Linked DNA regions of Homo sapiens: region 1 is linked to region 2. The links come from fine-mapping of genetic effects on gene expression. A gene starts in region 2. The other region holds a variant in brackets. All regions are shown on one strand. Distances are from middle to middle. Region 1 has its middle 10 kb from the start of OR6B2. Region 2 holds the start of COPS9 (COP9 signalosome subunit 9).

The links. PIP is the estimated chance that this variant, and not a neighbour inherited with it, causes the effect. A credible set is the group of variants that fine-mapping cannot tell apart.
Region 1: its variant is the best candidate, but not a certain one, in a credible set for the expression of COPS9 in sun-exposed skin (GTEx, PIP 0.80).

Annotation. Positions count from the first base shown.
Region 1 is chr2:240,037,827-240,043,199 of GRCh38, forward strand. No RefSeq gene overlaps it. Among named protein-coding and RNA genes, the nearest start is that of OR6B2, 10 kb to the left of the region's middle. The variant C/T (reference allele first, on the strand shown) is at 3,151.
Region 2 is chr2:240,133,107-240,138,479 of GRCh38, forward strand. COPS9 (COP9 signalosome subunit 9) reads right to left here and starts at 3,199. Exons shown (of 3, transcript NM_001163424.2): 1 at 3,116-3,199; 2 at 827-899. The coding sequence starts at 3,178. RefSeq lists a silencer at 3,011-3,060 and enhancers at 3,501-3,600, 3,611-3,720.

The DNA of each region.
Region 1 (5,373 bases), 95 kb before region 2:
CTAAGTATGGCTACTACTGATATTTGTTTGTTTCTAGTTGCATCAAATATCTTTTTCCAACCCTTGACTTTCAGTTTGTGTCTTTATAGATGAAGTCAGTTTCTTGTAAGCAGCATATGGTTTAATCTTGTTTCCTCATCTATTTGGCCATTCTGTGCCTTGTAATTGGAAAATTGAGTGCATTTACATTCCATGTTATTATTGATAAGTAGAGACTTACTACTGCCATTTTGTTACTTGTTTTCTAGGTGTTTTGTAACTCCCATTTTCGTTTTTTTTTTTTTTTTAATGTCTTCCTTTGTGGCTAAGTGATTTTCTCTGGTAGTATGTTTAATTTATTGCTTTTTTAATTTTTAGTGAATCTCTTATAAACTTTTGCATTGTGGTTACCATGAAGCTACAAAAATATCTTATAGATATTGGATGTTTTATTATTTTAAAGAGATGAAGACTTATGTCACAAAGAATAGAAACAAACAAAGGAAAAATGAAAACCCTCTACACTAACTCCATCCCCCTCCACATTTTAACTTTATGTTGTTTCAATTTACAGATTTTTATATTGCCTATCTCTTAACAAGTCACTGTGGGTATTACTGTTTTTGATAGAGCTGTCTTTTGGGCCTCATACTCAAGTTATGAATGCATTGCACACCGCAATTACAGTATTATAGTATTCTGGATTTGTCCATGTATTTAATTTTACCAGTGAGGTCTATACCTTCACGTGCTTTCTTTCTGCACAGTAATGTTTTTTTCTTTTGGATTGAAGAACTACCTTTAGCGTTTCTTGTAGGATAGGTCTGATGGTGGCGAATTCTCTCAGCTTTTGTTTGTCTGGTAAAGACTTTATCTCCCCTTTATATTTGAAGGATATCTTTGCTGCATACAGTATTCTTGACTGACCTTTTTTTTTTCTTTTAGCACTTAGAAAATGTTATCCCACTTGCTCCTGACTTGTATGATTTCTGTTGAGAAGTCTGTTGCCAGACAAATTGGAATTCCTTTATAAATTATTTGCTTTTTTTCTCTTGCTACTTTTAGGATCCTCTCTTTGTCCTTGACCTTTGAGAGTTTGATTATTATATGCCTTGGCACAGTCTTATTTGGGTTGATTATGTTTGGTGTTCTTAGACTTTCTTGTACCTAGGTGTTTATCTCTTTCTCTAGTTTTGGGACGTTTTCTGTTATTATTTCTTTGAATAAGTTTTCTATTCCTTGCCCTTGCTCAACTCCTTCTTGAACATCAATAATTCTTAGGTTCAGGTTTTTGAAGTAATTTTCTGTATCTGGTATTGGGTGATCTTCATTCCTTTTTATTCATTGTTTTCTTTTTTCTCCTCTGACTCAGTGTTTTCAAATAACCTGTCTTCAAGCTCACTGATTCTTTCCTCTCCTTAATCCATTCATCTCTTGTGAGGCCCTAATGAATTTTTCAGTTCAGCAAAAGTATTTCTCAGTTCCAAGATTTCTGTTTGTTTGTTTTTTTATTGTTTCAATCTCTTGGTTACATTTCTCTGATACATTTCTGAATTGTTTTTCTGTGTTATCTTGGAGATCACTGAGTTTCCTTAAAACTGCAATTTTGCATTGTTGTTCAGAGAGTTCACATATCACTGTCTTGTTGGGGTCTGTCACTGGATCCTTGCTTTGTCCATTTAAGGAGGTCATGTTTTCTGTTTGCTGTTGTCTCCCATAGATGTGCATCTATAGTTTTTCACTGAAGGGTTAATTATTTATTCCAGTCTTCTCTGTCTGGCTTGTTTGGCTTTTATTAGATTTGTTTGCTTAGAGACTCCTTGTAATTTATCTATTGATTTTCTTTCTTCCCTCCCTGCCACCTCACTATGTTGCTGCTTTCTTTTCAACACTAGATGATTCCTTAAGCCCAGGTTTGCCTCAGCTCTAGTAAACAGTCAGAGTGCCAACCATCCCAAATGAGGGAGGCCCCAGAGGGAATATCCTGGTAGTGTGGGAAGGCTGGCTCACAGTTTGTGCCCAGGGAAGGTGTGGAACAAACCTCCTACAGCATGGTGCTGCTGAACTGCCACACTGATTTGACATCTTCTTTGGCTGAGTTACAGAACAGAGTCTCCAGAGCTGGGGTTGGTAGTCCTACCTTCCCGCTTTGTCTCTGCTGGCCTTAAGGCTGTTTTTCCCTTCAGGTGCTAGCAGTGCTAGCAGTGCTAGCAGCACTTCCTGTGGGTTGAGGCTGGGACAGATCTCCTGCCAGGAAACCTAAGAGAGTGAGGAAGCTGGTTGTCCACCTCAATCTCACTTTTTCCAGCGTAGAAACTGTGAGTCAGGGGGACATTTTCCGTGTCCTTTGTGCTGGGCAGTTTTGGGGAGAGGGATGTCGTGAATATGGAAGTCCAATTCTCTTACTGTCGGCTTGGAGTTTTTTTCACTTTTCTGTGGTTGCACGATCTTTTTCCTCCTCATATTTGAGTTCTTGGGTATTGCCGGTGATACTCTTGGTGCTATGTATTTGTTGTTCATTCTGTATGGGGGCAGGGGCAGGTGGAGAAGCCAGCTTCTATGCCATCATTAAAGAACTGGAATTCCCCCCCATGTGTCTCTTATAAGGATGCTCATCAATGCATTTAGGGCCCACCTGGATAATCCACACTGATCTCCCCATCTCCAGATCCTTAATTTAGTTACATCTGCAAAGACCCTTTTTCCAAATAAAGTTGTATTCACAGGTTCCAGAGATTTGACATAGACCTATATTTTGGGGCCATTTTTCAGCTGACTAGAGCTGATATATTTTTTTTTCCTTAGCATGTATGCCTGAATACCATTCTGAGTATTTTACCTATTTATTTTGTGTATTTCTCTCTCATCTAATAGATTGTAAACTGTATGAGGACTGAGATTTTTGTCGATTTTGTTCATCATTTACCTTGAGTGCCTAGATTAGTGTCTGGCACATAGTAGGTGCTTAGATGAATAAATGAGTAAATGAATGAATGACTCAGTTGGTTGTGACCAGAGAAGGGTATGGACAGAGAAGATGGAGTAATTTAACAGGAGACAAACCATGTCCCAGCCCAGCTGCCCGGGGAGGAAAATCAGCTCTCCACAGCCCTGAGAATGGCACCAGTAGCATCACTCTGAGCCTGTGCCTGGGTCCCTGGGCTGGCTACC[C/T]GGCCTAGAGCCCTTCCTCCAAATAAGGCAGGGACATGGGGTCTGACTCAGCAGGCCAAGTCGGGGTGGAGACCCAGATGATCAAATGCACATGAAGGAGGCAAACCCAAGGTCATGACACCCAGGAGACCCAGGAGGGAGGTCCTGACTGTGGATGGCAGGAAGTCTCAGCGCTCACTCTGTACCAACTGAGAGGGCGCCAGAGACTTAGAGGAGAGCAGTGGACTCTGGAAAGGACATGAGCTGGAGGTGGACAGTCAGTGGACAGTGGTGCTTCTGTGCAACAACGTGGGTGTCCAGCAGCAGCCTAGGGGTTGGCAGATGTGGAAGAGACAAGTGGGTTTTAATGGGGTGGACACAGGCTCTGCAAATGGATCCAAACTCAGTCAGAATGAGTACAGAAGAGGAAAAGCAACTTTTCCATAACTCAGATACAGATACAGGCAGATTTTAGACCTTCATCATTTCCCAGTGTTGGGACGTACAGTGGTGGCTGAAGCACCGCTGTGCAACCTTCCTGCCCAGACAGCTGCTCCAAGCCAACTGGGTTCCCAGGGGTCCGAGTGTCCCTTCCCCTGGCGAGTGAGAGCAGACCTGGGCGCCTGGGAGCCAGCAGGGAACTGTCTGGTCCAGAGGAGGAGTGGGCTTCAGGGCCCTGTGCAGCCTGAGGATGCACGACTGACTACAAAACAGTTTCTATATTAAAACCAGACTCACAAGGCCAATTCTAGAGTGGGCTGAAGCTTACAGTATGAGCTGAAGAAGCTTTTCTTGGTTGTCTCTGGTTCAAAAATGTGCAGAGGACTGAATGGATGCCAGAGTTGATAAAGATAGACTTAGTAAGAGATTATTAGAAAGTACATGTTAGAAACAAGAAGACAGGTGTTGAAGGTGGCCCTGGCAGACAGCAGCAAGACATTGCCCTGCTGTGAGAAGCCCACCAGGCAAGAGCTGTGGCTGAAGAGGCGTAGATGAAGAGACTTGGATGAAGAGGCATGGATGAAGGGCCGTGGGTGAAGAGACGTGGATGAAGAGGCATGGACGAAGGGCCGTGGGTGAAGAGGCATGGACGAAGGGCCGTGGGTGAAGAGGCATGGACGAAGGGCCGTGGGTGAAGAGGCATGGACGAAGGGCCGTGGGTGAAGAGGCATGGAGGAAGGGCCGTGGGTGAAGAGGCATGGACGAAGGGCCGTGGGTGAAGAGGCATGGAGGAAGGGCCGTGGGTGAAGAGGCATGGACGAAGGGCCGTGGGTGAAGAGGCATGGACGAAGGGCCGTGGGTGAAGAGGCATGGACGAAGGGCCGTGGGTGAAGAGGCATGGAGGAAGGGCCGTGGGTGAAGAGGCATGGAGGAAGGGCCGTGGGTGAAGAGGCATGGACGAAGGGCCGTGGGTGAAGAGGCATGGACGAAGGGCCGTGGGTGAAGAGGCATGGACGAAGGGCCGTGGGTGAAGAGGCATGGACGAAGGGCCGTGGGTGAAGAGGCATGGAGGAAGGGCCGTGGGTGAAGAGGCATGGAGGAAGGGCCGTGGGTGAAGAGGCATGGAGGAAGGGCCGTGGGTGAAGAGGCATGGAGGAAGGGCCGTGGGTGAAGAGGCATGGAGGAAGGGCCGTGGGTGAAGAGGCATGGACGAAGGGCCGTGGGTGAAGAGGCATGGACGAAGGGCCGTGGGTGAAGAGGCATGGACGAAGGGCCGTGGGTGAAGAGGCATGGACGAAGGGCCGTGGGTGAAGAGGCATGGATGAAGGACTGTGGGTGAAGAGCCGTGGATGAAGGGACATGGGTGAAGAGCCGTGGGTGAAGGGACATGGGTGAAGAGCCGTGGATGAAGGGCCGTGGGTGAAGAGCCGTGGATGAAGGGCCATGGGTGAAGAGCCGTGGATGAAGGGCCATGGGTGAAGAGCCGTGGATGAGCCGTGGGGGAAGAGCTGTTGAAGAAAAGTTGTGAATGAAAAGCCGTGGATGAAGGGCCGTGGATGAAGAGCTGTGGATGAACAGGCATGCATGTGGCCAAGGCACCACCAGGCTTCACTGGGAGCAAGCCAAACCCAAGCCCGATGCCCTCTCCTGCTCAACCCACTGAGAGGCAGGCTCTAAATTCCTGACCCCAAGTCAGCTTGATCCCTTAAATCAGACCCCACAAAGCCCTTTGCTACCCCATCCTGCCCTCCCATTAAATCCCATGTCTCCTCTGGCCTTGGAAGAACCTCTTCACCTGGATCT
Region 2 (5,373 bases):
AATTAGAAACCGATGTGGCAAGCTCAGGTCCTAGCTGTTAACTAGTAACAAGAGCTTTCTGTAGAGAAAAGCACCATGGATTAAACCAGGATGAAAAATGCCACCTCACTCTCTGGAGTAAGAAACCTATCTTATTTACTTATTATTTGAACCCTTAGTAAAGGTTAATATCATCTATAGGAATAAGGCCTGAAGAAATCAGAAGAGAATGAGAAATATTCCCTCTAGCAGGTCTGAAGATGTTACAGAAAATTTGCTTTTCACTGTTCATTTGGTTTACCCATGTTTTTGGTAACTAGCACTGAAGCCCTTAAATCAAGAGGAAAACACATCCTGCGTCCTGATTTCAGAGCTGGGCAAGAGCTGGAGTATGGCTGTCCCTCTGCAAAGGCAGCTGAGGGCATGAGAACCCAGGCAGGCAAACACAGGTGGGCTGGGAGAGGAAAGGAAACCGGCTACCCGGAGAGGGCGGAGACAGGGAGACAGATGGGGTTCCTATGGCCGTGTGTGGGGTGAGGGCCCAGACCTGGCTACAGTCTGAGGTGTCCGCAGGCACATGTAACACGCATGCCAGAGCTCAAACTCAACTACTGGGCTGCAAGCTGGGAACAATTTCATGCTACTTTTCTCCTGAAAAATAAGGCTGCCTGCCAGTGGCCGCAGCCCGTGTCATCGCTCCACAGAGGCTGCACTGCATTCTGAGAGGAGCGCAGGGGCTCTACCACCTTATGATCCAAATTATTCATGTCACCAAGTTGCTTCACTGCCTTCACCTAGAGAAGAAATATTCAGATTAAATCTGGCATCCCATTCCAAGCATCCTTACCGTTAAAAAAGTCTGCATGAACGGCCTTTTCATTGGCTGCCAAGTCCATCAAGAGCCCGGTGCTGCCTCCCGCCTGGGGAATGGAAAGGCAAGGTTATGTCAGGTGCGTTTTCCGAAAGAACAGGTGATAAGTGCATTGCAGGGCCACTACCCCCACAAAAAAAGAAGATGGGTGAGGGGAAACAGGCTCAAGTTGGAGTCAACATTTTAGTTCCAGACACAGGAATGTGTATTGGGGGGAGGGGGAGGAATTCAAAGGAATGATTTTTAAGGTCTCTCAAGGGCTTCTGTTCCTTGATTCCTGTCTGCCTTTAAAAAAGAAACCTACCACTGACCTAAGCACCACTACTTCTCTGTGCCCCTCAAGGAGAGCTTTCCGATCCCTCGCCGGACATCGCCAGAGGCCACAAACATGCGAAATTGAGCCCATCGCCTCCACTCAGGATCCCTTCCCTCTCTCTTCTGGGAATGAAACCACTTCCCCGAGGAAACTGACCTGCTCTGCCTCTGAGGTTCTGGTGCCCCGCTGCTATCATGGACCGTCCACTGCCACAACTCCACGGCAGTGGAAAAACCATGTCACAACCCAAGCTGGGCAATCTGAAGCCCTCAGGATTTTGGGTCCTGTTTAGAGTCAACCGGTGACAGAGGGAGCAGATTCCTCTGACAGCAGCACCCTGGACAGCTGGCCACAGGTCCTGCTGCTGCCCTGGCCCCAGCATTCACAAGGCCGCTTGCTCAGACCTGCCCTGATCCCCACATAGCTGCATGCCCTTGTTCCCTTTCAGACACTCTCAGAAAAGCCAGGACACTCAGTCTCCTCCCCTGGCTTCTCAGCCACCCTCCCTGTCCCCATCAGCACAGTAAGCCACGCGCATTCTACCACTTGAAGCTTGTCCCTACCTCCATCTGCCTCATTCACACCCTCTTCAACTCTCCTGTTCTCCCTGCTCTCATTTTTCTACCCTCTCACCCGTAAATGCTGCCACCCTACAGAGCAAGTCGGAGCCTCTCACTCCCCACTGTAAAGCCCTCCGGTGGCTCCACATCGCCTAGGACTGTGAAGCCTAGGACTGTAAAACAGGACTGAGAAGCCTGGGTTTAATGGAAGTGCTTCGGGAGCGGGGTGCACAGAGCCACCCTCTTTAGCATGGTTCCAGATGGTTTCACGATCTGGGTAGGGAGAGAGTCCCTACCCACTGTCTCCCCTCTCTCTGGCACTGCACGCTCAACCATGTTAAACGACACAACATTCCCTTCCCTTGGTGAGCCAGTCGGCATCCCCCAACCCAGGGCTCTGCTCCTGCCGGGCCTTCATCCCCCACTACCTGGCAAACACCAATGTGTCCCCCAGCATTTGGCCACAGAGTCGACTCCTCAGCTGTACCTTTGCTGAGCCCCCTCAAAGCCCTGAGGGTCCATCCGTCGGTGCGCCTTCGGCTTTCTATGACACCTGGTATTTGCAATCAGCCGCTCTGCCATGCTATTACCTCCACAAGCACAAGGGCTGCCTCTGACCACCTCTGCAGCCCCTAAGCTTTGAGAAAGAGCACATAAGGCCCTGACATGTAGGAGCTGGCCTGCCACTCTGAGCTAGGCTGTGGTGCTCTCCTGCTGACCATAAACCATCTCAGAACGCTCACATCAGACAAGGTCACTCTGTGAACACAATAGAGACCAACAAAACCCCAAGACGACTGTATAATCCTGTATAATTAAAAAGAAGAACGAGGCCACTACGCAAAGCACATAAATGCCAGATGTCTCCTTTTCCGCTCCGACAGGAATGACGGCTGCTCCAGTCTTCCCTCATTCTAGTTAAGATTAAGAGGCCCAATCGGAGAATTATCCTCGCTTCCAAGGCACAGTAAAGCCCACTTTCTTCCCCCAAATCCCCTAACACGAGCTCAAATCCCACACGAGGTTATGGAGACGCACCGCGGGCCCCCATGGGGTGCTGCAGCCATCGAAGAGCAGCAAACGCAACTCCTCTGACCACGGGTGTGTTCCCGGGGGCCGTGGGGGCACCCAGCAGGCACTCAACCCTCAGGCTGCGCCTCCTGGTCCCCCGGGCTAGGGCACACGCTTCCCGCCGCGGTCGGTCGCCGCCTTTCACCAGGTGCTCGGAGAAACCGGGATTTGCTCTCCGCGGGGCAGGGAGCCTGGGAGCCGCGCCCATCGCCCACCCGCCCGGCCTCCCCTCCCCGGGACCCGCGCACCAGGACGCCGCCCTTCCGCTCCCCCTTCCCCGCTCCCCACGCTCGGAGACTCCCGCCGGGCCCGTGCCACCTCGTCCAGGTCCACGTAGGGCCCGGCGCCCTCGGGGAACATCTCGTCCACCGCCGGCTTCATCTCGGGGCCGCGGCGCTCTAGGCTCACTTCCGGCCTCAGAGCCGCTTCCGGCGCGCGCCACATGGCAGATCTAGACGCCGGAGGACCGCGCCTCTGTGGTGCCCGCCCGCTGGGGTGCTCCCGGCCGCCGGCGCGTCCGCGGCCACCGGCGTTTGTCTTTGCGCTGGCGAGGGCGGGCGTCTGCAACGCCTCTGATGGGCGGCCGGGCGGCCACGGGGAGAAAAGGCTGCCAGCAATGGGAGCAGTGCCTGCAGAGCACGCCTCCGACCAGAGGCCGGATCCAGAATAAAGAAGGAGCCTCAGACTCTGCCGCAAAGACGGCCGGGTTCACAGGAGCCCAGGGCTTGACCTTCAGACGTTTGTCTGAAGAAGACACACTCGCGGCCAGTGAGCAGATGAAGAGGTGAAAGCAAACCAGGGCCCCACGGCCGCTGCACCCCTGGGACGCCCAGAGTCAAAAAAACAGCAAAACACGGGTGGAAGGGTGCGCGGCACACGGGGCCCCTCGCACCGCGGCGGGGAGTGAGACGCGGCAGCCGGGGCGGGAGACGGGGGGGGGCAGGTCCCAGAAAATCAAACACGGACACCCACGTGGCCCAGCACTCCCCTTCCGGGCACAAGCCCAGAGGACCAAAAGCCGAGGCTCCAAGGGGCGTCTTTACCCCACGTTCACAGCAGCGTTATTTATAATAAATGAAAAAGGGAAGCGTCCCCCGCTGTCCCTGCCCATCGATGGATACGTGCATAAGCAAATGTGGGCCATGCACACTGTGGAACATTACTCAGCCTTTAAAAGGAAGGGAATGCCGACACCTGCTGCCACGCGCAGGAACATTGAGGACGCTCTGCCGAGGGAAACGGGCCAGTCCTAAGACAAACACCGCATGATTCCACTCAGCCGAGGCCCCTAGAGGAGTCAAAGTCATAGAGACAGAAAGTAGAAGGGGGTTATCAGGGTCTGGGGAAGGGGAAATGGGGAGTTCGTGTTTAGTGGGGACAGATTTTCAGCCTTGACAGATGAAAAGGATCTGTAGAGGCTGCTGGTGATGGCTGCACAGTTCGTGAATGTGCTTAACGTCACTGAAATGTGGTTAAGATGGAAACAATTTGTGAAGTTTTACCGTAATGAAAAAAACAACAAAAAAGAATGTGACAGAAATGCGAGGGAAAGGAGAAGGAAAGGGGTAAGAGGAGGGAGAAGGTTGGAGGAAGAGAGGGAGAGAGGAAGAACAGGGGAGGGAAGGAGAGAGAGCAACAGGTCCTGGAACTAGACTTTGCCAAAGATTCCTTGCTCAGCCAGACTTCGGTGGCCTCCTAACCTCCTCCCAGGCCCATCTGTGCACTGCATTGTCAGGTTCAGTTTTCGCAGAGAGCCCTGCTAAGTTGGTTTAGCCAGAGCCCCCCACCCTGGATATTGGATCGGGTTCCTGGTCCCCCAGCATCCCCAGGATGTCTGATGGCCCAGACCTGTCTTCAGCGAAAGCCCTGCGGGGTCGGCCGAGCCAGCATCCCGTCCCGCACTGTGTTCCTCCCAGTCATTTGCCACCCGCGACCCCACCTGCTCCTCAGCCGCAAACCCCCACTGCCTGTGCTGTTCGGAGCTGAGCCTGGTCTCCCTCCCCCACTGCAAGATCCCGTTGCAGTGGTCCCCACACCCGTCTCCAGGGTTCGGAACAACTTCTGAAAATTTCCAATAATGTTTTCCTTTAACAGGCCTTAGAGGAGTTGGGTTTGGGGGTTAGGCTGTAGAGAAGGGGAGTGGGGGGCGGCATGGATGAGGGTAGTTCCAGGGACAGGAATTGAGCTGAAATGTGAGGGGTGTGTGTGGCCTGAAAAGGGGCCGCCTGGCCTGAGTGGACAGTGTGGGACGCAGGGAGAAGCTGGCAGTGGATATTGGGTGAGCCTCATGCCATGCCAATGTGCATCACCCTGAAGGACCCAAGTGAAAGTCAGTCCGATGGAACAGGGGCTTGGCAGTGACTAAGAAGATTGACCCATTAAGTCAAGGTCTTTACTAGCTAAGGGGTGGAGCTGTGGGTCTCCACGGTCTGCTTGTACACCCTACAGGGATGGGGGGCTCACCACCTGTGCAGAGGCCATCCTATTGCTGGAGGCCCATCCCTGAGACACCATCGTGCTGCCTGCCCAGTCTTCCAGTGCCCCAGGTGAAGCCCCCTTCCTCCCAGCATCCTCAA